Linked DNA regions of Homo sapiens. The protein of the gene in region 2 purifies or fractionates together with the protein of the main gene of each other region. This does not show direct contact. Each region holds a gene or a part of one and is shown on either strand. Other genes may lie near its edges.

What was found.
Region 1: the proteins of U2SURP (region 2) and CHERP purify together in Homo sapiens (affinity purification with mass spectrometry; 4 studies listed by BioGRID and IntAct, with this or other methods). This does not show direct contact.
Region 3: the proteins of U2SURP (region 2) and SF3A1 purify together in Homo sapiens (affinity purification with mass spectrometry; 4 studies listed by BioGRID and IntAct, with this or other methods). This does not show direct contact.
Region 4: the proteins of U2SURP (region 2) and DNAJC8 purify together in Homo sapiens (affinity purification with mass spectrometry; 2 studies listed by BioGRID and IntAct, with this or other methods). This does not show direct contact.

The regions. Positions count from the first base shown.
Region 1 is NC_000019.10:16,532,038-16,539,533, reverse strand, and holds part of CHERP (calcium homeostasis endoplasmic reticulum protein), read left to right. Parts: intron 1-3,897; coding exon 3,898-4,082; intron 4,083-6,385; coding exon 6,386-6,523; intron 6,524-6,784; coding exon 6,785-6,936; intron 6,937-7,496. UniProt on the Homo sapiens protein: Involved in calcium homeostasis, growth and proliferation.
Region 2 is NC_000003.12:143,053,163-143,060,658, forward strand, and holds part of U2SURP (U2 snRNP-associated SURP motif-containing protein), read left to right. Parts: intron 1-513; coding exon 514-632; intron 633-1,780; coding exon 1,781-1,957; intron 1,958-3,149; coding exon 3,150-3,288; 3' UTR 3,289-7,496.
Region 3 is NC_000022.11:30,332,895-30,340,390, forward strand, and holds part of SF3A1 (splicing factor 3A subunit 1), read right to left. Parts: intron 7,488-7,496; coding exon 7,302-7,487; intron 6,358-7,301; coding exon 6,236-6,357; intron 6,141-6,235; coding exon 5,895-6,140; intron 5,004-5,894; coding exon 4,796-5,003; intron 4,287-4,795; coding exon 4,132-4,286; intron 2,860-4,131; coding exon 2,758-2,859; intron 2,645-2,757; coding exon 2,573-2,644; intron 1,802-2,572; coding exon 1,700-1,801; 3' UTR 1-1,699. UniProt on the Homo sapiens protein: Component of the 17S U2 SnRNP complex of the spliceosome, a large ribonucleoprotein complex that removes introns from transcribed pre-mRNAs.
Region 4 is NC_000001.11:28,229,693-28,237,297, forward strand, and holds the start of DNAJC8 (dnaJ homolog subfamily C member 8), read right to left. Parts: upstream 3,338-7,605; 5' UTR 3,307-3,337; coding exon 3,229-3,306; intron 561-3,228; exon of another isoform or gene 439-560; intron 1-438. Other genes in the region: ATP5IF1 (ATPase inhibitor, mitochondrial isoform 1 precursor), read left to right, coding at 6,492-6,578, 6,669-6,760. UniProt on the Homo sapiens protein: Suppresses polyglutamine (polyQ) aggregation of ATXN3 in neuronal cells.

The DNA.
Region 1 (7,496 bases), on a different chromosome or scaffold from region 2:
AATCGTAAGCAAAATATTGTATGTGCTTATGTGTTTCTAGAGCGATCCTTCCTTAGCCCCAGCACACCAAGTTTAAAACCGTTGCTAGGCCGGGCGCGGTGGCTCACGCCTGTAATCCCAGCACTTTGGGAGGCCGAGGCGGGCGGATCACGAGGTCAGGAGATCGAGACCATCCTGGCTAACACGGTGAAACCCCGTCTCTACTAAAAATACAAAAAATTAGCCAGGCGTGGTAGCGGGCGCCTGTAGTCCCAGCTACTTGGGAGGCTGAGGCAGGAGAATGGCGTGAACCTGGGAGGCAGAGCTTGCAGTGAGCCGAGATCGCACCACTGCACTCCAGCCTGGGCGACAGAGCGAGACTCCGTCTCAAAAAAAAAAAAAAAAAAACCGTTTCTAAAGGCAGCGGGAAGCCACAAGAGTTTTAAACAAGGGAGAGGGTGGCTTGGGTTGTGTGGCCGGTGGTGTAGGACAAGCTACAGGGACCAGCCTGGGGAGCAGTGAGGCCTGCAGGGGAGCAAACAGGGCAGTTGTTTAGGTGAGAGATGGTGGGGTCTGAATTAAGTCAGTAGGTTGAGCCTGAGGGAGGGAGCATGGGGGGCAGGTGGGGTGAAGGGGTAGAATCCATGAACTTGGGCGCCAGTTGCATATTGACGACCTGATGGTGTAATGAGCAGGGGAGGAAGACACCTCAGACGGTGCTTTGGCTTGGGTGACTGAGCTAAGGGCTGCTTTCCCTTTCTGGGGCGGGGGGGTGGCCACTTGGAAGCTGGTGCCATTATGAGGAAGGAGAGGGTGCTTATGCTTATAGCCCAGGAAGATTGAAGCCAAGAAGTGCTTTCTTTTTTTTTTGGAGATGGAGTCTTGCTCTTGTTGCCCAGGCTGGAGTACAGTGGCAAGATCTTGGCTCACTGCAACCTCTGCCTCCCAGATTCAAGCGATTCTCCTGCCTCAGCCTCCCAAGTAGCTGGGACTACAGGCGTGCGCCACCACACCCAGCTAATTTTTGTATTTTTAGTAGAGATGTGGTTTCACCATGTTGGCCAGGATGGTCTTGATCTCTTGAACTCATGATCCGCCCACCTTGGCTTCCCAAAGTGCTGGGATTACAGGCGTGAGCCATCGTACCCAGCCAAGAAGTGCTTTCTGTGGGTGATGATATCTTGGCTAGATGTAAAGGGTGTGTTGGAGTTGGCCAGGTGAAAACAAGGGGAGAAAAGTGTTCCGGGCAGAGGAAGGAGCCCTTGGAGGGAATGGGGAACCCAGAGCTTAGGGTGGCTGAAGCCCAGAGTAGGAGGGGTTCTTGGAGTGGCCAGAGGTGGGGGTGCAGAATTGGGAGCCTGGCTTGGGGAGGAGTTGGAGGCCTGGCTTGGGGAGGAGTCGGGGACCTGGCTTGGAGAGGAGTGAGGAGTGTATCCTGGAAGCGTGGGAGAGACTCGTGGAAGGTTTAGGTCTGTGTTGTGAAGCTGGGTTAGCCACAGTACAGCCAGTTCTGCACCCCACGCCTTAAAGCCTGGGCCTCAACTGTTGTAGAATGGAGCTTCACGAACTCTGTGGTGAAGGACCATTTCTGGTGTTGTGTTTTAAGTTTCTAACCTGTTGTGTGTGGACCAAAACTTCTGCAAAGCACAGTAACAATGTGGACCGTGAACCATCACGCTGCTAGAAAGGTTTTGAAATGCTCCCTTTCTGGTTCCATAACCGTCTGTCACCGCTGGGTAGCCCAGGGACCACTCCATAAGTGGCAATACCATGACTGCCATGTCAAAAAGAGGTAGAGGGATGGGACCTGATGCAGGAAGACCGGTTCTGGGGTGACGCAGGTGACAGCAGATCCATGGTGGTGACAGCGGGGACATAGACTGATTGGAGTGATGTCTCGGAGGCCGCCTTGACACTATGTGGCTCGTCACTGGGAGGCACATGCTACTTCTGGCCTGGGTTTCTGGGCAGATGGTGGTGCCAACCATGGTGCGGGGAGCACAGGAGGGGACATAGGTGTAGGGGGTGAGAGGAAACACAGGCCCCTTGGAAACACAGTGGGCCGTGCAGTTGGTGGTTAGGGCCAAAGCTCAGGAATCCAGAATGGAGATGATGGATTTAGGAATCACACCATGCACAATCGCAGCCACAGGAATGAGTAGCTCATGTTGCCCGGCGGTTGCGTAGAGCGGAGGACAGGGCTCAGAACACAGGCCGCGCACCCCAGCATGTGAGGGTCCAACGGGAGAGGGGTTGGTAAAGGGGGAGAAAGGGACTGAGGGGGCGAACACATGGAGGCCAAGGGAGGCAAGCACCTGCGACAGGCCCGGGGGGCTGAGTTGAGTGAGGGTGTCCTCAGCTGCCTGGGGGAAGGAGGGGGGTGCGGGGAGTGGCAAGCAGGCACCAGGCTGAGATAAAGGGGAGGTGAAGATCTGGAGTGAGTCTTGTCTGAGAAATCGTTTAGAGAGGGATCATGGGGTAAAGGGAGAAGTTTCCAACCCAGAATATTCTGATGTGTTTATTTATTTCCTTTTTTATTTTTTGAGATGGAGTCTCACTCTGTCACCCACACTGGAGTGCAGTGGCGCCATCTCGGCTCACTGCAACCTCCACCTTGCAAGCTCAAGCAATTCTCCTGCCTCAGCCTCTCAGGTAGCTGGGATTACAGGTGCCCGCCACCACGCCCGACTAATTTTTTGCATTTTCAGTAGAGACAGGGCCATGTTGGCCAGGCTGGTCTCGAACTCCTGACCTCAGGTGATCACCCGCCTTGTCCTCCCAAAGTGCTGGGATTATAGGCGTGAGCCATCATGCCCAGCCCAATGTGTTTAGATGCTGCTGGGGAGGGACGGGTAAAGAGGGAGGAGTTGGAGAAATAAGAGATAGAAGAAATATCAATAAGCAGTGTCCCTCAGACAGTGGGAGGGGTGGGATTCAGTGCAGAAGTTGGGGGTCATCCTGTAGGGTGGCTTTGGGTGCACAAACTGGAGGGCACAGTCAGCCCCGAGACTTGACTTGAGCGCCCAGTGAGGGGCGACACCTTCCACCTGACACCCCACCTCCCTTATCTTTGGCTTTGTCCTGGTCCCCTTGGAGTGGGGCTCTGGAGGGCTCCAGGGGTACCTGGTCACATTTAGACCAGGCGGCCCCAAGACGGAGAGAGAGGCAGGTCATCTTGTCCAGGGCCTCCTTATGAGCCGGGTCCCTTCCTCAGAGACCTCACCACCTGCCCCATCTGGCCAGAGTTGGGACCTGCGCCCACCCTGACCCAGGCTTCTGCCGGCAGAATGGGTGTCTCACTGCTGCCTCAAACTGGATGCACCCCTGAATGCAGAGGGGTCTCTGTCCCCAAGGGCTGGAGAAGCAAGGAGAGTCAGTAGAAGGACAAGGCAGGTGTGGGGGAGGCCGCAGTGTGCGCTCGGGGGTGCGGCTTCGTGCCTTTCTGGCCAGATGTGCAGAGGCCCGGTGGCTGTGACATCTTAACAGTCAATGGGTAGCTTAAGTGGCAGAGGTCAGGGAGTGGCCGAGGAGGTCGGAGGATGAGAGGTACTGAGGCCTGGGTTCTGCATCAGGTGGGGCCTAGGTGGGTGAGGAGGTGGGCAGGCAAGCTTAGCTTGCACCGGAAGGACACTGCGCAAGGACTGGATGGTGCTGGCGAGAGAGCGGCCAGGGGACTTCCTAGGTTCTCCGAGGAGGGGACGGCCCGAAGATGGAATGCTGAGGCTGGGATCCTGTGAGAGGGAGGGCAGGACCCGAGACTAGGAGGAGCTGGTTTGCGTGGGCATGAGGCTATGAACAGGCCCTCGTGGATGGTGAGTCCCTGGGGAGGGGGAGGCCCCTGTGGCTGAGAGGTGGCCAAGGGGACACCTAGACCCCCATCTGCATTCTCATGGGGCACCCCTCCTCCTCTCCCTCCAGTCATCTGCAAGCAGCAGACCCCGGAGCTGGAGCCAGCCGCCACCATGCCACCCCTGCCACAGCCCCCGCTGGCCCCCGCCGCGCCCATCCCGCCGGCCCAGGGCGCGCCATCCATGGACGAGCTCATCCAGCAGAGCCAGTGGAACCTCCAGCAGCAGGAGCAGCACTTGCTGGCGCTCAGACAGGTATGGGCCCGCCGCCTCCTCGGCCAGACACCAGCAGCTCCCCTGTGCCTCTGTTTTTGCGTCTGCTCATCAGAATGAATAACAGGTGTCAGTGAGGACAGGGCCCCCCCTGCCACCCAGGGCTCGGTGCATGTCAGCCACTGTCACCCCCAGCCCTGATGCCAGACACAGAGGCTGCTTCTCATCTCAGTGAAGCCACTGGACGTGCGTGCACCCATCACCCTGGGGTGGACCCCCCTGAGTGGGACTGTGGGGCACGTATGCACCTTGAAGCTCCCTAATGGCTGTGGCCAGGCAGCCTCTGGTGCCTACCATTGGCCCCACCACACAGTAGCTAGGTCACCTGGAGCTGTTGGTTGGGGAAGGACCCTTTTTTTTTTTTAAGTCTTGTTCTGTCGCCCAGGCTGGAGTGCAGAGGCGTGATCTCAGCTCACTGCAGCCCCTACCTCCCGAGTTCAAACGATTCTCCTGCCTCAGCCTCTGGAGTAGCTGAGATTACAGGCATGCACCACCACACCCGGCTAATTTTTCTATTTGTAGTAGAGATGGAGTTTCACCAGGTTGGCCAGGCTGGTCTCAAATTCCTGACCTCAGGTGATCCACCTGGCCAGAAGGACCCTTTTGTCCTTCCTGGTCCAACAGTTTGATAACTTTCGCCAAATAGAATACAGGTGCATTGGCTGGGTGTGGTGGCTCACACCTGTAATCCCAGCACTTTGGGAGGCTGAGATGGGCAGATCATGAGGTCAGGAGTTCGAGGCTAGCCTGGTCAACATGATGAAACCCTGTCTCTATGAAAAATACAAAAATTAGCTGGGCGTGGTGGTGCACGCCTGTAATCCCAGCTACTTGGGAGGCTGAGGCAGGAGAATTGCTTCAACCTGGGAGGAAAAGGTTGCATGAGCTGAGATTGCACCACTGCACTCCAGCCTGGGTGACTGAGCAAGACTCAGTCTCAGAAAAAATAAATAAATAAAATACTACAAGTGCATTGCCAGAAAAATGAGAGGAATAGAATACCAAACCTCCAAAACACCAACCCCACGCTCAGTACTAGGTTCAGGGCATAAAATCACACTGTCATATTGCTCTCAGAAAATTCCAGCTGGGCACAGTGGCTCAGCCTATAATCCCAGCACTCTGGGAGGCCAAGGCAGGCGGATCACAGGGTCAGGAGTTTGAGACCAGCATGGCCAATATGGTGAAACCCTGTCTCTAGTAAAAAATACAAAAATTAGCTGGGTGCAGTGACAGGTGTCTGTAGTCCCAGCTACGCGGGAGACTGAGGCAGAATTGCTTGAACCCGGGAAGTGGCGGTTGCAGTGAGCTGAGATTATGCCATTGCACTTCAGCCTGGGCGACAGAGCGAGATTCCATCTCAAAAAAAAAAAAAAGAAAAGAAAAGAAAGTTCCAGAATGCTCACCCTCAGCTTCTGTTCATCATGGAGTGGGAGGCCTGCCTTGACCAGCCGTAACTGACCGCTGGTCCGCATGGCAGCTCTGTTTTTACCAGTCGCACTTTAACCGGTGTTTCCTCTTGAGGAATGAGATTGCCCCCTTCTTGCTTCACTAGAGGCCATGGGTGTATCCTCTTCTTCTATTGCCTGTCGTTCACACCATGCCTCATTTGTCTTTTTTTTTCTTTTCTTTTCTTTTTGTTGTTGTTGTTGTTGTTGTTTTGTTGTTGTTAGAGACAAGGTCTTGCTGTGTCACTCAGGCTGGAGTGCAGTGGTACAGTCACAGCTCACTGTTTAACTTTGAACTCCTGGGTTCCAGCAATCCTTCCGCCTCAGCCTCCCAAGTAGTTGGGAACACAGGCACACACTACCATGCTCAACTAATTTGTATTTTATTTTTTGTAGAGATGAGGTTTCGCTACGTTGCCCAGGTGGTCTGGAGCTCCTGGGCTCAAGCGATCCTCCCGCCTCAGCCTCCCAAAGTGCTGGGATTACAGGCATGAGCCACCGCGCCCCGCCTTTGTTTTTTGTTGAGTTGGTTTGCAGAGGTTGTTTGTTCCTCTGGGCTGCAGTGTTTTCCTTGGTTACCTGGAGGGCAGGTGTTGTCTCCTGGTATGTCCTGTCAGTGCCCTGCCCACTCCAGGAGGGACTGTCACAGATTCACGGCAGGCATGAGAGACAGAATCTCCTCCTGCTGGGGACAAGCAAGGGAGCTGATGGCCAGAGCAGCCCAGAGTCCGGGCATCGCCACCATGTCCCCACCCCGCCCCTGCTGAGCCAGGCCGGAGGGCTCAGGCTGCGGGTCCCTCCTCATGTGTTCTCGACCCCACCGACCCCCGCCCGCAGGAGCAAGTGACAGCGGCCGTGGCCCACGCGGTGGAGCAGCAGATGCAGAAGCTTCTGGAGGAGACCCAGCTAGACATGAACGAGTTTGACAACCTCCTGCAGCCCATCATCGACACGTGCACCAAGGACGCCATCTCGGTGAGGGGCCAGCACTTCCCAGAGCCCAGCTTTCCCTTGGTCCCTCCCTGAGGCAGGGCCTGTCGTAGCCAATCTGGGCTAAGGGCTGTTACAATGGGTGCCCTTCCCTCCCGCCTGGAGCTCCTGAGGCTGTGGGACCCTGTGCCCCCCACGCTCATGGTGTGTCCTTCCCTGAGCTGATGGTGACGCGCTCTCAGGGATGCAGTGGGTGCCTGGGGGAGCCGCGGCCCTGCTCACTCGTCATTGGCTCGGTTGTTGCAGGCCGGGAAGAACTGGATGTTCAGCAATGCCAAGTCCCCGCCGCACTGTGAGCTGATGGCCGGCCACCTCCGGAACCGCATCACGGCTGATGGGGCACACTTCGAGCTGCGGCTGCACCTCATCTACCTGATCAATGACGTGCTGCACCACTGGTGAGCGCCGCCACCCCGTGCCCAGAGCGCCACTTCCTCGCGCTCCTCCTCAACCCTCCTGGGTGGCCGCTTGCTCCGGTCGGTAGCTTGGCTTGGCCTGTCCCGAGACTAGGGGGCACTTGTCCGGGGACCCCGGGTGGGGGGTCTCTGTGAGCCACCAGGCTTCTGTCTCCAGGACTGCGAGGTCTAGGTGTCCTGTGCACCTTCGCTGCATGCCCTGTCCTCTCCCCTAGACCCCGGCCTCACCTGTCACATTGCTGTCTCCTGGGGGCCACTGTCCCCTGCACTCCTTCCTCTCATGGGGCAGCTTCTTGGCGTCTCCTTGTTGCCTTCTCAGCCACGGCCTCCTTGGCCTCTGTGTCTGTCTCCTGCCCTCGTCACTGATTTGCACGCACACACACGCGGTCACCTGACTTTGCTCAGCCATCAGGACCCTCCTTTGGGATCCCCTTCTCCAGCCCTGACCCATCTCTCAGGCTTCAACAGAGCCACATCTGCCGACCCTCTGTCCCCACCCAGCCCTCACCCTTCCCACTGTTGCTGTCTCCACCCTCCCCAAG
Region 2 (7,496 bases):
CTGACTATTTTATTGTAACTTATGGAAAGGGCAGTACATTGTTAGCTTTTTCTGATTGGAATTTTTCGGCAGGTGGGACAGTGGGGGAAGAGCTCTGACTCTAGAGCTTGGTCTCAAATTCTGACCTGACTCTCCTGTGTGACCATGCACATGGTACTTAATCTTTCTGAGTCTCAATTTTCATCTCTAGAATGAGGATAATAGTAATTTTCTTAGGGATGCTTTAAATGATTACATGAAATGGTCTGTGGAAAGCTGTTTAGTATATTGTTTGGCCTGTGGTAAGCACTCAGTAAATGTATAGCTGCTGTTGCTAGGATTAGTTTTATTCAGTATAAGCAAAAGAAATGACTAGTTTCCCTGAAGGGGTAGATTTTTTTTTTTTTAATAGTATTGTACCTTAAGTAGTAATTTAAAAAATTATTTCCTGTAAGAGAAGATATTGTTCTATAAATGAGATTAACCCACATTGATATTTTTAAACAACTTAATATTTTCTATAAAAAATAACAGGAGAAAGAGAAAGAGTTAGAAAGAGAACGAGAAAGAGACAAGAAAGATAAAGAAAAATTGGAATCTCGCTCCAAAGACAAGAAGGAAAAAGATGAGTGTACTCCGACAAGGAAGGAAAGGTATAACATTTCTCATATTTAATTGCATATACTGGTTTCAAGATTTGCAGTGGTGTTTTATAATACTTTCATCATTGATGCCCGCAAACTGGAAGTGTTTGTTCATGATAAACTTGTTTGGGTCCTGCTTGCAGAAGGCAGAAATAGCGGAGAAATGGGGCATTTAGTTGGCACTTGACTTAGTTAACCAGGGCATCATCCCTTCACATGGTTTATATGGTATCCTTAGCCTTAGTTCAGTGCAAGGATTCAATTACAGTATTAGATATCAAACCTGAGGTTTAAGTAACAAAACAACTTGCTAGATTTTCCTTGTTGCATCCAATTTAAGCATATTTTCCAGTATCTGTGCTGAGGCTGCTACTTGTAAACTTGAGTCTTAGTCTTATCTTGAAAGGAGGTTGTATACATAGGCCAAAGCTCACCTTAAGTCTTCATTCTAATCAAAAGCATTTCTCTTTCAGTTTTTATGTCTTACTCTCACGGTTCCTAAATCTCTGATTGAGTAAAGAAAATTGTTTCCCTTAACTGAACTGAGGTTTTCCTAATAAAAAGACCAAGCCATTGCAAATAAAAGTCTAGCTTAGTCACGCTACAGATAGTTACAAATAACAAGTTATGCCAATTGGTTAAAAGTCTGTCACTTTTTTGACTTTTATTACTATTTTGACATAGTTTTAGATTTATAGGAAAGTTGCAAGAATAGTATAATTGATAGTTACCCTTCACCCACATTACCCAAATGTTAAAGTATTTCTACTTTTGCTTTATTCTTCCTCTTCTGTCCCACCTCCAACCATTTAAGAATAATTTGCCAACATGATGCCCCATTCTCTTAACCACATTCAACATTTTAAAAAACTGATATTTAATCCAGAGACCTTAATTAGATTTTGCCAGTTGTTTCAATAACCTCTTATTGCAAAGAGAAAATCCAATTTAGTTGAATTCAGTTGTTGTCTCTTGACAACCTATCTTTAACACTTATTTGTTCTTGTTACAAAGGACTTTGAGTATTGTTAAAAGTAACATTACATGGTTAGAATAAAAGAGTAAGCTGGTAGCAATTAATAGCTAATTTAGTAAAGGAAAATGAATACCCGATCCTTTGCTCATTTATGGAATGTTTTGGGGGCTTTGTTCCATAGGAAGAGGCGACACAGTACATCCCCCAGCCCATCTCGCAGTAGCAGTGGTAGACGAGTGAAATCCCCATCACCAAAATCGGAGCGATCAGAGCGTTCAGAAAGATCTCATAAAGAGAGCTCACGGTCCAGGTCATCTCACAAAGATTCTCCTAGAGATGTTAGCAAAAAAGCCAAAAGGTAAATGCAAGTCATTTTTGCTAATATTTCAGATACCAGTTTCCTTGTCATTTCATCAGCTTTTGAAAATAATTTGGTTGGCATACATTTTTTTTTTTTTTTAAGGATTTTAGAAAACCAAAGAGATACACTTTCATTTTTGGTTATTCCTCCCCACCTCCTCATCCCAATCTCTTTCATGACTGAAGTGAAGGCTTCCAACAAGTGAGGACCAGCCAAGAATTTTAAACATCATATCCAATGTTTTCTGTGGAATAGGGTTAGCTGCTTTACTTTTCGTTCTGTTCTTTAGTTTCTATAGAATATTATTTGATTTTTGTCAAAGCTGAAAGAAACACACATTTTTCCCCCATAGCAATATTATTAGCAAGTTCTTGGGTAGATATTTTTGGAAATACATATCATGAATACCATTTTTTCAGTATGTATTTTAGTATTTTGTATACTTTTTTTTCCTTTAGTTCCAGAAAAATGGTTCAGAAATGTTTTATTTATCTGGTGATACATAGAGGAATTTTCCTGAGAGCTAAAACTGCTTTGTATGCTAATACTTTATTATTGTAACTATTTTTAGTAAAATCTTTACAGAATAGATACCTTTCTCCTTTTCTAAATGGCACCTGTATATATATGTATGTATGTGTTATATATGTATGTATATGTACATGTATCTTTATTGGTTTAAGTAATCCTTCATGAACAGCACTTACAAAATTATGTCTTAAATGATGCCCTTGAATGATACTGCAGTAGTTGTTTGCTTCAGGATGATAAACTTCAAAGCTGCTGTGTTTTTTAAATTTTGTGCATGATCTTAGGTGCAACTTTGAACTTTATCTTGTAGATTAAAGGTTCAAATTTGGGGGTTATCAGTCACTTATGGAGCTTGTTAAAAATGCAAATTCTTAGTTCCATCCTCCAGAGATTTTGATTCAGTAGAGCAGTGATAAGGCACAGAAATCTGTCTTTATAAACAAGCGCTCTACTGATGATCATTGATGCAGTGCATAGTAAGTACAAAATAATCTGTGTGTGTGTGTGTACAATAGAGTTTAAATTTTAGAAGTTCATAGTCTTATTGCAGTGATTTTTCACTGTGCCCTGTTAAAGATCATTTTCGATCGTTTAAGGATAAACAGTTTTGATCACATGAGTACTTTATCAATTGGGATTTTTTTGTTTGTTTCCTTAGATCACCATCTGGTTCAAGGACACCTAAAAGGTCTAGGCGATCACGGTCTAGATCTCCTAAAAAATCAGGAAAGAAGTCCAGATCCCAGTCCAGATCTCCACACAGGTCTCATAAAAAGTCAAAGAAAAACAAACACTGACGTAAATTTTTAAGATGCTGTCACTTATTGGAAATGCGATTTGTTTTGTGCCTGAACGGTCTGTTTTTTAAAAAAACAAAAAATCAAATGAAAGAGCATTCCTGGGGTTTTTTGTTTGTTTGTGTATGCATGTGTAAACTCATGAGCAACTGCATCTGTAGATCTGTCATTGTTTTATATTGTGTAAATTACTTTCATTGTGGCTATTTCTCAAGATGAAATTTTTATTGTTCTAATGGATTTCATCAGAAATGTGTATAATGGATCTGCTGACAGTAGTAGTATTTTGTTTTAGGATGTTGTGACTTAGCAAAAATAATACAGATGTCTTCCCCCCTTTTGTAGCTTTGACAATTTGAATTAGATTTCAAATAAAATCTGAACAGAAAACTATAATGTTGTTTTTTTGCCCCACCGGTGATATTAAGTCCCTTAAAGTCCTACTGAGTTTCACACTACTGTTGTGCTTCTTATACCTGATGCACTTTATAAGCCCCAGTGTTCAAGTAGCTTAAGTTTTATATTTACTAAGATGACTATCCAAATTAAGGGACCTGAGACTCCTATTTGGTGGTTTGCTAACCATTTGCTTTTGATAAGTTTCTCTTGGGTAATACTAATACCCAGATATCAAAGACTAGGTAGATATGGCATGGCGTTTTGTTAGTGGAATGCCTGGCTAAAACATTTTTTTCACAGAAGCAATATGATTTCCATACATCCAACCCATGTTCTGAGCAACTACTTACTTTTAGGGGGAAATTAAATATCTTTTCATTTCCTCTTCTATTATGAAAGAAGTTTATTTGTAAAACAAATTTTCTAACAAGGTTTGGCCATAGAATTCTCTTGTATGATCGTTGACCTTTTATAATCTTCTGTAGGCTATCTTTCAAACACTGGCATCAGAATATTTTTTATAAGTTTGTGTTTAAACAGCTTAGTTGGTCCCCCCCCACTCCCAAGAGACTTGGGTTTAGTTATAGCTTTAAGTAAAATTTAAAAATAAAATGTTTTTCAGGAAACTTCGTATCTAATGGTTTGTAAATTCAAGGTGCAAAAAGTTGATTTAAACCATTTGCAGAGTTGAACTCTATTATGAAAATAAATTTGCTACGGTATGAGGAAGAAATAAAACTTGTGTAATGTTGGTCATAATACTGCTATAAATATAATAAAGGGTTATGTAGAATTGAACTGACACTATTATTTGTGAATCTTGATTTCAGTTTTTTATGTAGGCACTTCATACACTGGTTTGATGGGTTTTTTTTTTCCTCCCTAAAAGAGAAAGTAGAAAACTATTCTAACAATGGATTATTTTGATTTAGCTTGCTTTTTAAAAAAATCTTTTCAACTTGTTTTACTTAATCTTGCCTAGTCACAAAATAAGATGTGCACCCATGGTTTGGAGAGTTCCTATATTAGCTGAGCAGTGAGATACACTATTTCCAAACGGTGCACACCTACAGTAGCTTTGGAAATGAGCCAATCACTGTTTTACTTAATGGTTCTTATCAGCATGCAAATATTGCTTGAAAGTTATTTCCTTATTCACTGTTTTGTTAGTCCATTTTGTTAGGAAACATTAATTCCTAAAAATTTGTTCAGAATAATTAAAAGTGAACATTTGGTGCTGATACTCAAAAACCTACAAATGTAGCCATTTAAAAAGTAACATGTTTTTCTCCCCTGCTCATTGCCTGGGAGAATGGAATTTTATATAACTACCTTTCTTTGCAAAAATAACGGTCGTGTCGAGTTGGTGGTGATTTTGGCATTCCATCTTGCACTGGTTTCTAGTATAGGCTTAGAAATAATTGGTCAGGTAATAATCTTTCCAGTCAAGTTGCAAGGGATGCTTATTTCTCTTCAAAAAAAGACATCCTGCGGGATTGAGTAGAAAATTTTAGGTCAGTTTTGGGTGCTTATTTGTAATATTTTTCCTACTACATTGGAGTTTAGCAGTTCTTTTTTTCTGGATCCAGATACAAGTGTCATGGTTTATCTTACAGTGGGTGAAACTGACTTTCTTTTGGTTGGGTGGGTGAGGATTTCTTAGGCCTGATAGAATATATATTCTGTGAAGTTTGTTAATGTACATATTAGATTGTATTGGATTTTTTTTTCTTGAATTGCAAATGGTATTATTAGATAGGTTATTTCCAGTTTTACTTCATGACAAATTACCTAGAGTAAACCTACTTAATACTCCCATGGATTCTATGAAAGTTTAATGGGATCAGAAATTGGTGACTTATAAGGGGGAAGATATTCTACCATATTTTTATAATAGCTTATTATTCATGTTTCTTGTCTGAAGGACACTCAAGTTACAGAGCAAAATTTCTATAGGTTGACTAGAATGTTCATAAGCATGGTCTTCCAGTTGCAGGAAAGATCATGTTCTATCTGTGGACACTTACTGTCCTCTACCACAGCTACGTGCCAGAGTTGTTTTCCACAGTTCTTATAAAGGGCATGACTTAGGCTCTTTACCCTCCAACTTAATGTTTATACACAGGGATTGTTTACTAGGTTAATGACATTTAACTCCCCTCTCTTCTGTAGGTGAGAGAAAATAAGTAAGTCTTGATCTGTTTCTTACCAAAGAGAGACAGACCTATGATGGAAAATGATCACGTCTCTGAATTTTTTCTTTAACGTTATAGTTCCTTATTACAGATAGTAAGCATATGGGAATTTCTGAGCTATAACATGTTGAGAAGTTAGAAATTAAAACTAACACAACAAAAGGCGCTGAATCAAAAGATCTTTGCTTTTATTTGGCTCAGAATGTTTTTGGCTTTTCTGCTAAAGATGGCAGAAATTACTCTACACAGACCTGATTTTTCTTTATTGCAGACCATTCTTGTGGGCTTACCCTGAGACTTTTATCCCAATTAGTGAATCTTGGAGGGAATACTTGCTTATTTATGACTTAGGTATTTCCCCCCAAACTTTAATATTCTTGAGCACTTGAAAATACTTTTGAGAAATTTTAACTGTGATTAAATTTAGGTTTATTAGAAATATTCTGTACACATTTGCCTCCATGGTGGCGTAAGTTCTGAAAAATTATATGACCGTGACAATAGTTTATCATCATCATTATTGTTATTCAAAATAAGGGTAAATAAATCTCTGTATTGCCAAAGTGACTTAAACTGTTCTGATGACCACACAGTGTGATTTCTTTAGCAGAGAAAGTTGGTTTTAAAAATAAATAGTACCACTTTTCTAAGACTGTACAGTTTACAAATAAGGTTTTTTTCTTTGTTGTTTTCCTCTTCTATTAAGTTTTAGTGAAAAGCCTAATTACAGAAAATTGTGCAGATACTAGTGAAGATACTAGTATAAGTTTAAAGGAACACGTGACTGTAAAATCTCACATTTACAAAGTGCTTGATCTCTTCATATTTCACACGCATGTTTTAGAATAGATTTTAGGGAGTGTTTAATTCATTATCCTTTTGACTTAAAATTTTTGTTACCAACTTCCTAGGACTTAGATAATATATAAATAAGTACAAATCCCAGGGGAAGTGTTGTGATGCTAGACTAAAAGGTGGGAATGTGCTGCTGTTCCGTGAGCCTTGTTCCATTGTTGAAAATTTGATGCCTCAGTGTTTATTCAGTACCACCTCATGGAGCTTCAATGTAAATGGATTATATGTATAATTGGTAATTTGTATAGTTTTGTAGATTGTAGATTAAATGCACTCATCATGTCACATGTAATTGTGCTTGGAGTATTTGTGTTTTATTCTTTTACTTCAACGGGTTCTTGTCTGTTACATCTCTGGTGATTTGAAATATCAGGAAAGACAGTTTGTCAGAAATGAGAATAATATAGTTGAAATCAGTTGGGCTAAAATATTCTACAGCAAGACAATTTCTTTTGGGTGAACTGATTCTATAATTTACTTACTTTTAATGTAAGGATTAGATTTATTGTTGAGCTGCTTTCCAGATCAGACTGTCACTTTATAGTTTTTCTACATAAAGATTATATAGTTGCAAACAAAGGTTGTGAAATTTCCCTTTTGTTGTTTTTGACTTTTAATTAATAAAAGTACATTGTTTTCATAGCAAACTTAGACTGTCCATGTAATTTTCTCCATATTGTTTTTCCGATGCAAGCCCAGTTAATAATTAGTTTTTTAGCAGCTTTCTCTCAAGTGAAATAAGTGATGTGACATGTTTAT
Region 3 (7,496 bases), on a different chromosome or scaffold from region 2:
AACACCATGAACTGCCCACTGCTCCCAGAAAGAAAGAAGAACTTGGAATATGAGACTCCCCAGGTCTCCTGACCCTCTTCCTTCTTGGAATGAGACCCAGGTAGTGCTCAGGGGATTTCTGGTGTTGGCCATGGACAAGCAACCAGTAGTGGGCTCACTTTAGGGACGCAAACCACAAAGCCCACCTCAGGAAGCCAAATTTCAACTCTTGCCCCTGGGGCAAACTTCTAGCAACCAGGCCAGAGGCAAATGTCAGACAGGATAAGGGATGACATCCCATCAATCAAGTTGAAAATGGGAGGGACCCAGCAGTTTGTAATAAAGCCATAAAACTGGTACTGACTCTGGGTGAGAGGGAGAGGCAGGGTGGTGACTAGAGAGCTGGTTCTGTGACCTTGGGAAATGGTCTCACCCCTCTGAGCCCTGGAGATGACCTGATGGGGCAGCTAGGAGGTCCAAATGGAAGGACTGCAAATAAAAGGCACTGGGAACTCTCAGGGGCCACACACATGTGAGATCTTCCCAATAAAATCAGCCTTAGCTTTAAAACCAGGAAATTGTTAGCAACAGGCTCTCACCTTCCTCCAACACCCACAGCATTGCCTATCTCCCTGTGATAGCTTGATTCTAAAGATAACAGCCTGCCTTTACTCAGAAACCAGGACTGTGACGTGTTTTGCACACATTCTCTTTTCACTTTCACAGTGTGTGACTATGGCATGCAACTTATGTTCTCTGTGCCTCAGTTTACTCAAGTGTTAAACAGGAATACTCACATGAGGATTACATGAGTTAAAATGGATAAAATGGATAAAAGTAGAGAGTAAATTATTTAAACTTTATCAAATCCTTGGTACATGACCTTAATACAATTAAGTATTTGTTAAATACATACATTTTAAAGAAACGTCATCATATCCACACACCTATGAGGCACCTGCCCAGGACCACAGAGCCAATCAATCAGGTGATGAGTGATTCCAGGCCAGCAGGAAACCACCGCCCACTGACACAGGGACTGCACCATCCATCCTTGGTTTGCATGGTGCCTGCCATGCTTCCTGTATTACTGTTAAATACATGGGGCAGGCCTTTGGAGGATCCCAATGTTTTAAAAGGGCAATACGAATATGATTCTAATACATAAAAAGTATGAGGGCAGCAAGAATTTAGTTACAAAACCCAAAAATCCTCAAAGAGAAGCCACATAGCACTGTGCAGTGTTACCACTGCCTCGAGTCTGGACAGGGCACAGGTGACCGAGACAAGTCTTATTTAACTGATTTCACAAGAAGGGTCCGAGTTTTATTAGACAACCCATGTCAAGGTACAAAATGATTAATGACAATATCAGCCATATTCTATTAGCCAAGTGCCACCTGTCACTATGAAACTATCCTGTAGGACATCCCTGGGCTCTCAGTTGCTAATGGGCTGCTGAAGAAATGAATGTCCTCAAATCGAGACCCTAACACAAAGAGATTCCAGAGAGTGGCTTAGAAAACCCAGCTACTCTTACCAATGTGGGGAAAGGGTCAGGGGAATGAACCTCTGCAGGACAATTTGAATTCCCAAACTGAGTAAGAGCGAAACAAATATGCAGGCAAGGCAAAGCCTCAGGGGGGCTCCTGGGTCTGGGGCAGGGGGTGGGAGACAGGAGAGGCAAAATGGCAGGGACTTGACAGCAGGTTCCTCTTGTCTACTTCTTCCTCCCGCCTCTCTCCTTGAGGGCCAGGTGGATGACTGCGCCATTGGCCATGTTGTAGTAAGCCAGTGAGTTGGAATCTTTGATGAAGATACCCTGGAAAACAGACAGCGTGCCTTAGCATGGGGCAACCCAGCCTTGGGGATACCGCTGCAACCTTACAACTGTGCACTTGGTCTGTTTGCGCTCTGGACTTAGCAAATACAGGAGCTTGTGAGAAGGTAGGGTGTTGGGGACTGGAGGCCTCTCATTCCTCCCACTGTTTCCTTTCTTCCCACCAATTACGCTCCTCCCCTTTGTCAACATTTGACTCAAAAGCTCAACTCCCCAAAAAGTTGGCCCCTCACCAACTCCATGGAGCTCTGACTCTGAAATCACAAGACCTTTAGGGATCACTTAGCCCAACAGCCTCAATGGATAGAGATAACTGAGGCCCAGAGCAGGGATTTGTTCAAGTTCAGAGAAGAAGAACATTAATGCCTCCATGTGACCTGGCATCAGGCGGGGCTAGACTATCACCTCCAAGTCAGGCTGCCTGAGGTCATACTGGCAGGGATGGCCCAACCACTGGATCAGGAACCCACCAGAGCATGCCTAAGTCTTGTCACTAAATCTCTATGCCCAGTCATTGAGGCAAAGAATCTTACAGATCCCACACAAGACTCTACTGTGACCCCACCAGAGCCTTGCATTGTTGGGCACACCTGCCCCAACACTCCCAGCCAGCATCATGACTTCTAGGATGGATTCAGATGGCCACACCCAGATATCACTCCACTCCCCTTTTAGCTTCCATGACAGATTTAGCTTCTGTGAAAGCAGAGGTGTCAGGACCCAAGGGACAGGTCTGTGGACAAACTGACTCACCTCATACTGTAGCTTCTGTTTCCCTGCAGGCATGCCTGTGGCTTCATGAATCTTCACCTTAATGACAGAGACCTGTGGGATCAAGCAGCGGTCATTCAACTCCTTGGTAAGGCCAGCTAGAGGAAGCTTTCCCCTGAATGCTTGGTTCCCATGCACCTGATGCCAGTTTCTGGCAGTACCCATACCTGGTCCGTGAGTGGGAGGGTGAAGACCAGCACCTGCCCATTCAGTTTCCATTCCGTCTTATCCTGCATGTTGGGCACCTGGACTTTGATGGACACTGGACCCTACAAAACAGGAGGTGGTCATTATGCCTAGGGAGCTCGGAGCCAATCAAGAACTATGCTCTGCTATCCCTAGGCCTGTCCAGACAATGTCACCTGTGCATCTGGGCTCCTGGATTCTGGCCTGATTCACCACTGATAACCCCTTGTGAGGTTGTACAAGTCACCCCCCTTTGCAAGATTAGGTTTCTTTTCTTTAAAACAATCTCTATCTTGTCTCTTGGTGAGTCTGGAGCTAAACTGAAGAACTTTAGTGAAAATACTCTGCACACCCCAAGGGAAAAGAATATGACCTGCAGGGTCGGAAGACCTGGATTCCCAACTCAGCTTCCCAGCTAACAAGGTTTGTCTGAGCCTCAATGTCATTATCCACCAGACAGGGTTCATGACTGTTTTGAGTATTGAGGGGAAGTGTCTGTAAAGTGCTTAGCTCTATCCTGGTACTTAAGCGTTTAAGAAATGGGAACTATTATTAAAAAACAAACAGAGCGGGTGCAGTGGCTCACACCTGTAATCCCAGCACTTTGGGAGGCCAGCGTGGTGGATCACTTACGGCCAGGAGTTCAAGACAAGCCTGGCCAACGTGGCGAAACCCCATCTCTACTAAAATACTAAAAATACAAAAATTAGCTGGGTGTGTGGTGCACACCTGTAATCCCAGCTACTCCGGAGGTTGAGGCATAACAATCACTTGAACCCGGGAGGCAGAGGTTGCAAAAACAAAACGAAACAATTTGGTCAAATACATTGGGGGAGCAGAGGCCGGGGCTGTTTCTGTCTCCTTACTGCAGCCTGACAGCTTCCCTAGTGATTAGCAGTGACAAGGTCCCCACCTCCCCTTATTCCAGGACCCCAACAGGATCCCACCCAACAGGCAGACCTCCTAAGGGCTAGAGCTGGGGAGGAAGGCCACAGTAAATTTTAAAACACCACACACAATTTCCTCCAGGTGTCTAGGGTCCCTCTCACACGTGAGTTGTGCTGCCCGTGCTGCTGGGTCTCCCTGTTGGCCTCTGTAAGTCTACACCAGAGGGACCACCACAGTCACCACCTCTGCCACCACTACCATCACCATCACCACCAATGCTCTCTGCTCCTCCAATTGTTGGCCCCACATTCACTGTGTGCTCAGAAGCCCTTAGATGCCTCCAACAGCTGACCTAGGCCCCAGAAGCCAAGACTGGGAGTGAAATAGGGTCAGTTTCGCAAGTGTACGACAGGGGCGGGACTGAACCCTCCAGCTAGAAACTTCAGCAGCATTCTGGGATTACATACCTTGTTTCTGCGCAGGAACTCCTCCTCTGGCATGAGGCTGTCCTCTGTCTTCAGTTTTTTGGAGGTGGGCTCATCTTCCATGGGAGGTGGGGGATGCACAGGGGGCATTGGGGCTGGAGCTGGGACAGGTGCCACAGGTGGAGCAGGCACAAAGGCTGCAAAGACAAGAATAAGCAGCCCCATGAGAGGGCAGAAGGGGCCCAGGACTCAGGGCTGATGAGAAGTTGAGAGGGAAGGTTGCAAAGGTTTCCTCTAGTCAGAGGTGTCAAGTGCTGTTCCCTGCTAAGTCTGGCAGCCAGCAGGTTCCCTGGCAAGGGGACCTGGGAGGCTGCCCAGATTGGACAGCAGAGGACTGCAGGAGGGGCAGGACTGATGGATGGAGCTAGTGCCAAGCAACAAGCATTTCTCAGGCCTCTGAGCCTGTTGGGGACCTGATCCCTGAATGCACAGACACTGGCTACACCATTTCAGCCTCTCATTTCTACCAGGAACGGTGGCTCCCAGCTCTAGGGTTGCGGATCTTTCAATGGGAAGCCAGGGCTCTCCTCTGGGCTGGATACCCTGCTGGAACAGCTGGCACTAGCATCAGCCACTGCTCTGCTGACAGTACTTGGCCCGTGGTCCCTGAACTAATGGCCTGGAAAATGATGCAAGAGATACTGACCTGTTGGCACAATCATGGGGGGTGGGCGGGGGGCCATAATAGGAGGGGCCGAGGGAGGCATGGGCACCACGTTGATTCTGGGCGCGTGGATGATGGGCGGCATGGGGGCGATCACTGAGCCTGGGGGCAGCCGGACCACAGATGCCATTGGGGGCCGGGGCATGACGGGTACTGCGGAGACAACTGTAGTACGAACTGGAGGTGGCATCTGTGCAGGAAAGAGACCCACAGATTACAGGAAGCCAAAGTTGGACTCCAAGGTCACACACAGTTGGCAACTGGCTGCCTGCAGCTCTGAGGATGGAGGTTAGACAACTACGTCCTGGCCCCCTGGGACTGAGAAACTGTGGCCTACACTGGGCGTCCAATAGGAACTGAGCTGCTGAGAGCCCGAGGATGACACTCTCTCTACTTGGGACTTGGCGGGTCAAACTCGACCTGCTACTTTGGCAAACACTGAAAGAGTCACTAAAGAGGCTGAGACCTTGGCCAGGCACAGTGGCTCATGCCTGTAATCTCAGCACTTTGGGAAGCTAAGGCAGGCAGATCACCGGAGGTCGGGAGTTCGAGACCAGCCTGACCAACACGGAGAAACCTCATCTCTACTAAAAATACAAAATTAGCTGGGCATGGTGGCGCATCCCTGTAATCCCAGCTACTTGGGAGGCTGAGGCACGAGAATCACTTGAACTCGGGAGGCGGAGGTTGCGGTGAGCCAAGATCATGCCATTGCACTCCAGCCTGGGCGACAAGAGCAAAACTTCATCTCAAAAAAAAAAAAAAAAGAGGCCGAGACCTCGACTAAGTCTCTCCTGGAGACAAGCCAACAGTCCTCAAAGACCCAATAAGCCCTGCAGCCCTTCTCTGACGCCAACTGGTTTCTCATATTTGCCACTTACCTCCCTCCCTGTTCCAACCCTCCTCCACAAACAGATCAAGAGAGAGGTTCCCACTTGCATTTAAAGGGCTCTTTCTCTTTCAAACTGACCCACCCAACACTCAGGCCCCACTAAAAGGCAGCTGCACTTCTCAGCCAACAGTGTCCGACCTCAAGAATGAAGCTCTAAAAAAGTCAGTTCCAGGGTAGATGCTGGCTTACTGTGGGTGGTCGGGGCACTGAAGTGATGGGTGGAGCCGAGCTGGGGATGTTGGTGGCTGAAGATGGTGGCGGTGGCTGTTGAGGGATTTCATTGGGCTTGCTGGGGCCAATCTTCTCTTTAGTGTCATCCTCTGGCACCAGGCCTTTGGCCTTGTGAATGGCCTCAATCTGCTCCTGGAGGGTGATGTTGGCCTGGGCAGCCTGCTGGGTCCGGGCCATGCTGCCTGAGTGGCCATCCCAGGTCACCTGCAAGTGAAAGCAAAGCCACAATGCTTCTGGAACTAAGACCAAGTATGGAAGACGGGGGGCAGAGAAGGCACTAGGTTCCACTTTAGCCGCACCTTTTCCTCTGGCTTCTGGATCTCCTCCTCACCGATCTTCTTACCAATGGCTGTTTCCTCTACACCGAAGATGTCAGTACGCCGCTCAGCCAACTGCTTCAAGCTGCTCTCAATATCCAGACCTGTACAGTCACAAAACAGAGGCAGAGGATAGAAAGAGAAAATAAACCAGGTGTCCTGACAAGAGAGCAGCTTTTCTGGTGTGCAGGGAGGAGGCTGGTTCCATGGGATGAGGGTGACTCAGGGCCCCAACTCTTGTCCTCTGGGCTCGGGGAAAGCTGCCCGATCTAAGCCTATAAACCCAGTGCTTGGGCAACCCCTCTGACTTAGAAAAGAACGGTAGGCCAGGCACAGTGGCTCATGCTTGTAATCCCAGCACTTTGGGGGGCCAAGGCAGGAGGATCACATCTGAGGTCAGGAGTTCGAGACCAGCATGGCCAACATAGCGAAACCCCGTCTCTACTGAAAATACAAAAATTAGCCGGGTGTGGTGGTGCGTGCCTGTAATCCCAGCTACTTGGGAGGCTGAGGCAGAAGAACTGCTTGAACGTGAGAGGCGGAAGTTGCAGTAGCCAACATGGAGCCACTGCACTCCAGCCTGGGAGACAGAGTGAAACTCCGTCATTCATAAATAAAACACATAAATAAATAAGATGGTGAGTTAGAGAGGGCAACTGTGTGGAAAGGGCCACATGGTGTAAGTGGCAGAGTCAAAACTAGAAGCCCAGTCTCCCACCTGTGGCACAGTTCCTGCCCCATTCCAAAGAGCTCATGGTACTCCAGCCATCAATGCTCTCCTTCTAAACAGCCACAGGAAGCCCTTCCAGCTAAAGCCAGAGCTTGCTCTGGGATGTCAACAGGCACATGGCATCTCCTTCAGTGTCTGCCTTTGGGGAATTTCTATGGGGAGTTCTTCTGGAAAGTGGGGAGTTCTCTTGCAATATCATAGAGTGCAACTCTCCTCAAAAGCTTTTGTTGACCTCAATTGTTGCTTTCTATGTTTGCTTAGAAGAAGATGGCTGTAATTCGGAGACTACCATGGGCTCTCCTGGAACCCCCACCTCACCTGGTGCGTACACCTCATCATCGCTCTGCTTCTCACGGATGGAGCGATCCCGCTGCTCCAGCCAGCGAGGGTCAAGAAGTCCAATGCGCATGTGTTCCTGCATTTTGCTGGCGGGGATCTTCTCCCCAGTAATGGGGGACACAAGATACTCATCTGGAGCAGGGGCTGGAGGCAAGGGCTTGGAGGCTAAAAGGA
Region 4 (7,605 bases), on a different chromosome or scaffold from region 2:
GAACCCCAGGGACAGAGGTTGCAGTGAGCCAAGATCGCGCCACTGGACTCCAGCCTGGGAGACACAGCGAGACTCCGTCTCAAAAAAGAAAAAAAAAAAGTAAGAGATTTCTCTGTGAGGAAAAAAAATAAAGAAAAAAATTTAAAGAGCAAAAAAAGGAAAAATACAATCACAGTAAGACATAAACTATGAGCAGCATTTAAAACTGTTGATGGGAAGGAACAAACAACTCCACCACCTAATTCTAATAGTGTTAGAAAAAATCCCTGACTTGGCCAGGCGGAGTAGCTGTCACCTGTAATCCCAACATTTTGGGAGGCTGAGGTGGGTGGATTGCTTGAGCTCAGGAGTTTGAGACAAGCCTGGGCAACATGGCGAAACCCCATCTCTATTTTTAATTTAAAAAAAAGAAAGAAAGAAAAAAGAAAAATCCCTGACCTGAAGACAATGCCAGGGAGAACAAGCACCAGGCAGTCCCAGGAAAACATTCTTGGTGTCACTGTCAGAGTTGGAATGCTAGTTGGAATGAATCTCTGGTATGCTATATGCCATCTTTATTCCTATAGCCAAAACAAGGTTGGAAAGAATTTCATTAACATAAAAAGTCATTCCTTCTAGACATCTTCCCTCTTCACTCTATGAAAACAGGATTTTTTTTCTCTCTTGTTCACTACCGTATCCTCAACACCTAAATAGCAAACTAGTACATTTCCAATGTTCAATAAACATCTGTTAAATGAATGAGGCCAGTGTGGTGGCTTATGCCTGTAATCCCAGCACTTTGGGAGTCTGAGGCAGGAGGATCACTTGGGTGCAGGAATTCAAGACCAACCTGAGCAACATGGCAAGACCTTGTCTCTATTTTTTAAAAAAATGACTGAATTACCCTTCCTTAGATATTTTTTCCCATCCAATTCAAACAAAGGTTGCCATTTGGTTTTTTGTTTGTTTTTGTTTTTTGAGAAGGGGTCTTGCTCTGTCACCCAGGGTGTACTGCAGTGACAGAAGACAGATCATGGCTCACTGCAACCTCCACCTCCTGGGCTCAAGTCATCCTCCAGTCCTCTTGCCTCAGCCTTCCGGGCAGCTGAGACTACAGGCAGTGCCTGCCAGGTGTCTAGACCTAAATGTAATACTTTGGAGAAACTACTATGTAACAAGTACTGTTACAATTGCAAGAAATAAAAGATGGATGTGATATGGTCCTTAACCCTGAATAGCTCACAGCCTGCTGGGGGGCAACTCCATTCCTCAAACCCATGCCACCCTACAGAGGTCCCATCTTCTGCCTTGTTTAACCCTGAGAAAGATGCTTCTGCTTTATTTTTTTATGAAACGCTTTCTTATACAATAACTTTAGTCCTCATGAAAATGTTTATTTTAAAATTAACTCTCTTGCCAAGCACAGTGGCTCATGCCTGTAATCCCAACACTTTGGGAGGCCAAGACGGGAGGATTGCTTGAGCCCAGGAGTTTAAGACCAGCCTGGGCAACACAACAAGACCCTGTCACAACAAAAAAAATACAAAAATCAGCCAGGCATGGTGGCCTGAGCTTGTAGTCCCAGCTACTGATGTGGGAGAATCACTTGAGCCCAGAAGGCAGAGGTTGTGCATTCCAGCTTGGGCAAGAGTGAGGCTCTGTCTCAAAATAAATAAATTAAATTAAATTAACTCTCTTGTTTTTACAGATGTGGAATATGAAGATCTGCAAAATTAATGTCTTGAACAAATTCAATCCCGGCCAGGCGTGGTGGCTCAAGCCTGTAATCCCAGCAACTTTGGGAGGCCGAGGCGGGAGGACCTTAAGTCAGGAGATCAAGACCAGTCTGGCCAACATGGTGAAACCCCCGTCTCTACCAAAAATACAAAAATTAGCCAGGCGTGGTGGCAGGCGCCTGTAATCCCAGCTACTCGGGAGGCTGAGGCGAGAGAATCACTTGAACCAGGGAGGCAGAGGTTGCAGTGGGCCAAGATCGTGCCACTGCACTCCAGGCCTGGGCAACAAGAGCAAAACTCCGCCTTAGGAAAAAAAAAAAGAATTCAATCCCAGTCCAGTCAGGTTAACTGTCTTCCAAGAATTTTTTTCTTTTTTAGACAGTCTCTCGCTCTGTCACCCAAGCTGGAGTGCAGTGGCGCGATCTCTGCTCACTGCAAGCTCTGCCTCCCGGGTTCACGCCATTCTCCTGCCTCAGCCTCCCGAGTGGCTGGGACTACAGGCGCCCACTACCAGGCCCAGCTAATTTTTTGTATTTCTAGTAGAGACGGGGTTTCACCGTGGTCTCGATCTCCTGACCTCGTGATCCGCCCGTCTCGGCCTCCCAAAGTGCTGGGATTACAGGCGTGAGCCACCGCGCCCAACCAAGAATTTTTTTTTCTATCCTTTTTTTCCTTCTTTTTAAAGAGACAGGGTCTCACTCTCGCCAAAAATGGAGTGCAGTGGTCCGATCATAGGTCACTGCAGCCTCGAGCTTTTGGGTTCCTCCCGCCTGGGCCTCCCAAAGTGCTGGGATTACAGATGTGAGCCACTGTGCCCAGCCCCTTGCAATAATTTAATCTGAGATTCTGACTCCAAACGGCATGCTTTTATTTCATTTATTCATTCATTCACTCAACAAATATTTACTGAGCATCCACTACATACTATGCGCTGGAGATGCGATAGTAAAGGAGGCTCAGAACAAGCCCACTGCTGTCCTAACATACCACCAAGCAAGCTGTAACCTACTGTAAGGCCCCAAACTATTTCACCTCCCTAAAGCTCAGGTTCGTCATCTGTAAAATGGGGGTAATATAATGCCTAACTGGCATGATACACAGTGCCTGGCGTTCGTGAATGGCAGAAACAACCACTAAAACAACTCATTACAAAGGACTAAGAAACGTCTCGGGGGCCAAGAAGGCTAAGTCACTCCCAGGAAGGGCCCAGCCTCTGCCAGCCCCCGACTCCGCGGACTTGGGGCACTCTGCCCGCGCGCCCGCACTATGTTGGACACACTCGCCACCTCCCTCGATAGATCGAACACCATTCCCTCTTTCGTTGCCCCGGGGGATCTCCCAGCAGCTATCAGTGGGAGACGCTCACACACCCCCAGACCCCCGCCACCCCGAAGACTGGACTGAAGGAATCGCCCAACGGTCCAGGCCAGGCGGCCACTGCCTTTGTCCACTGGGAAAGCAGATCCGGGAGCGGTCGCCCCGGTGCCACTACTCCTCACTCTGTGTTCACCTCACTGTAGAAGGTCATAAATGCTTCCTCGGTGCTGCCTCCGCCGCCTGAAGTCCCGCTCTCTCCTGAAGCCGCCATTTCCCCGGCCCAGCCACCACGTGACCCTTCTGCGCAGGCGTCGCCTCACGTGATTCTTACAGGTCCGCTCCTCTAGCCCCGCCTCCCGTCTGAGAGGTTCTTAAAGGGCTCGCAGCCCAGCCAGGCACTTTAAAAGTAGGTGGGCTTTTTAAAATTTAAACGAATTACACATAACATATAATTAACCACTTTAAAGTAAATAATGTGCTTAAGTTATTGTTAGGTAAAAAATAATAAGAAGAATAAAAGAAAAAGTGAATAATTCAGTGGGTTTATTTATTTATTTATTTTTGAGACAGGATCTCTGTCGTCCAGGCTGGAGTCGAGTGGTGCAATCACAGCTCACTGCAGCCTCGACCTCCCAAGCTCAAGCGATCCTCTCACTTCAGCCTCCCGAGTAGCTGGGACTGCAGGCGCGCGCCACCATGCCCGGCTAATTTTATGTACTTTTGTGGAGACGGGGTCTTGCCATGTTGCCCAGGCCTCCCAAAGTACAGGAATTACAGGCATGAGCCACCGCGCCGGACCGGCTCAGCTGTCTTCAGAACATTCACAATGTTCTGCAACCACCATGTCTACCTGGTTCCAAAATAGTTTCATCACCTCAAAAGGAGACTTAGTATCTACTTTTTTTTTTTAGACGGAGTCTCACTCTGTCACCCAGGCTGGAGTGCAGTGGCGCCTCCCCGGTTCCAGAAATTCTGCCTTAGCCTCCCGAGTAGCTGAGATTACAGACAAACGCCACCATGCCCCGCTAATTTTTATATTTTTAGTAAAGCCGGATGTTCACCATGTTGGCCAGGATGGTCTACGATCTCCTGACGTCGTAATCCGCTCGCCTTGGCCTCCCAAAGTGCGGGGATTACAGGCGTGAGCCACCGCGCCTGGCCGAGGAGACCTAGTACCTATTAAGCAGTTACTCCCTATTCGCCCCCTCTCCCCAGTCCCTGAAAACAAGCAATCTGTGTTCTATCTATATGGATTTACCTATTCTGGATATTTCACATAAATGGAGTTAAACAATATGTGAATACGTATTTCACATAAATGGAATTAAACAAAATACCAGGTAGGGCTGCTATTTTCTCAACTAAAATATAATCAATAAAGCCAGTTTTACTATTTCATAGAAAACAAAGAAGGTTTTGTTTTGTTTTGTTTTTTTGAGGCAGAGGCTTGCTCTGTTGCCCAGGCTGGAGTGCAGTGGCATGATCTTGGCTCACTGCAACCGCCGCCTCCCAGGTTCAAGCAATTCTCCTGCCTCAACCTCCTGAGTAGCTGAGATTACAGGCGCATGTCACCACGCCCGGCTGATTTTTGTATTTTTAGTAGAGACGGAGTTAGTCAGGCTGATCTCGAACTCCTGACCTCATGATCCATGCGCCTCGGCCTCCCGAAGTGCTGGGATTACAGGTGTGAGACACCACGCCCAGCCCCAAAGAAGGTATTTTTATAATCATCAATCAGGTAGATAATCTGGCCCAATTCTCTCATCTAAAAAAGAAGAAACAGAGAAGAGAAAATGAGTTAGAGAAGAGCTATAAACTTCATGAGAGTAAAGACTACTGTTGTCTTGTTCACATTCATTAGATGGATGAAGGGAGGTTAAGGTCAAGCTTTCCCTAGACTCCTACTTATCCTTTTTTTTTTTTTTTTTTTTTTTTTTTGAGACAGAGTTTCGCTCTTGTTACCCAGGCCGCAGTGCAATGGCGTGATCTCAGCTCACCGCAACCTCAGCCTCCCGGGTTCAAGCATTCTCCTGCCTCAGCCTCCCAAGTAGCTGGGATTACAGGCATGTGCCACCACGCCTAGCTAATTTATTTTTTATTTTTATTTATTTATTTTTGAGACAGTTTCTCTCTTGTTGACCAGGCTGGAGTGCAATGGCGTGATCTCAGCTCACTGCACCCCCTGCCTCTCAGGTTCAAGCGATTCTCCTGCCTCAGCCTCCCGAGTAGCTGGGATTACAGATATGCGCCACCATGCCCAGCTAATTTTTCATATTTTTTTTTTAGTAGAGATGGGGTTTCTCCATGTTGGTCAAGCTGGTCTCGAATTCCCAACCTCAGGTGATCTGCCCGCCTCGGCCTCCCAAAGTGCTGGGATTACAGGTGTGAGCCACCGCGCCTGGCCTGCTCTTTTCTACTGCATTGCACCACATTGCCAAAAGTGCAGTTATTAAGCCCATTCAACAATATGTTGCTAACGAAAAAAACAAACTAAAATATTTTTAAAAGGTTTATTCTGAGCCAAGATGAGTGACCATAGCTTGGGGAAACACAGCCTCAAGAGGTCCTAGGAAACTGTGCCTGAGGTGGTCAAGTTATAATTTGGGTTTTCTTTTTTTTTTTTTTGTTTTGAGACGGAGTCTCGCTTTGTCACCAGGCTGGAGTGCAGTTGCGCAATCTCGGCTCACTGCAACCTCCGCCTCCCGGGTTCAAGCCAATTCTCCTGTCTCAGCCTCCTGAGTAGCTGCGATTACAGTCGCGTGCCACCGCACCCGGCTGATTTTTGTATTTTTAGTAGAGACGGGGTTTCCCCATGTTGGCCAGGCTGGTCTCGAACTCCGGACCTCAGGTGATCCACCCACTTCGGCCTCCCAAAGTGTTGGGATTACAGGCGTGAGCCACCGCGCCCAGCCAGAACACTGACACTTCTCATAACAAATGAACGCGATTTATGTATATCTAAGCCAGGGCACATTGGACGTCGGTATCCTGGACATCAGCATCCTGGACACAGCTCCCAAACCCCGAATTCCCCCATTTTATTGATGCTAGCAGGCCAGGGAAGGGAAAACTTCCTTTGGGCTTTGAATAATAACGACTTTAGAATTGAAATCGTGGGCTGGAGGTGGACGCCACGCCTCATTCTGATGGGTCCAAGAGCCGAAATTTCGGCTTCTGGCACTCTCCTCACTCAGCTCTCTAAACTCCTCCATCATTCCTCTTTCCAGTCCTTTGGCCCTAAGCCCTTGCTAGCGGTTGGCTAAGAAGAAACCCGTCTCTTGCTCGGGATTCGCTGTGAGCTCCGGGAAGCCCGCCTCCGCTCTCCCGTGATTCGCTACTCCTGTGTTCATCCGCCCCTCCGTCGACCAGATTGGGTGCTTGGCCGTCCCTGCCATTAGCGCGTAACGAGAGACTGCTTGCTGCGGCAGAGACGCCAGAGGTGCAGCTCCAGCAGCAATGGCAGTGACGGCGTTGGCGGCGCGGACGTGGCTTGGCGTGTGGGGCGTGAGGACCATGCAAGCCCGAGGCTTCGGCTCGGATCAGGTACGCTGCGGCAGTGTCCGCTGCTCCAGCCCCGCGGGCGGATCCCATCTTTGCTTCCGTACCTTTACCAGTGTCCCTGTCTCTCTGCAGTCCGAGAATGTCGACCGGGGCGCGGGCTCCATCCGGGAAGCCGGTGGGGCCTTCGGAAAGAGAGAGCAGGCTGAAGAGGAACGATATTTCCGGTGAGGCTCACCGGGTCCCAAGTCCAGCCCTGGATCTCCCAATGGCCTTCCAATCCTTAAACTGCCAATCGCCCCACCCGTTCCTACCTGGTGCCTTGGGCGCCCCATCCCCCAACAGAACTCCCGGGCCCCAATCCAGTATACCCTAACCCTTGATGTCCCGACCGTTGCCACGTATAGGGCACTCCCAGTTACCTGCACAACAGTTTCAGGCCCCCAAACCGTTTCCACCGGCGGGTCTCCAAAACAACCCACGGCTCAACTCCTCCTTTATCATTACCATCTCCCGCGTGGAGTTCTCCTCAGGTCGTGCGAAACACCCCCAGATTCTTCGCACAGTGTCTAGATCCGACCGCCCAACGTTTGCCTCCCAGCCTGACTCCCTCGGCCCTTACCCACCTGTCACCCCCTCTACGCTCTCCTTCCTCGCCAGCACGCCTTAGCTTTGCAAGCCTGCATGCATTCAGGCTTCTCAGGTGTTTCTAGACCCCCGACTCCGCAAGAGTGAGGATGATGGGAGCTGGTCATGGGAGCTACTTATGGTTGGACACCATCTTCTAAAGGCTTTTGCCCTACTCAGCCCAACCTAGACCTGTAGATTTCCCTCTCCTGCTTAGGAGTATGGAGTGGGCTGGGCCTCCCTTTGCCAGCCTTGAGTTATCTTTAACTGACTTCTGTCCACTCTGGAGAGCAGTGAGGAATTAATCTTGCTTTTGCTTGTCCTTTGGCCTTTCACTTCTGCCTTCTGTTGAGAATTATCACCATGACACCTGCCATACCGTATAGAGAGCCAAGGTACAGCCGTTAGAGACTATCTAATTGAGCCCCTACATTTTGTAGTTAAG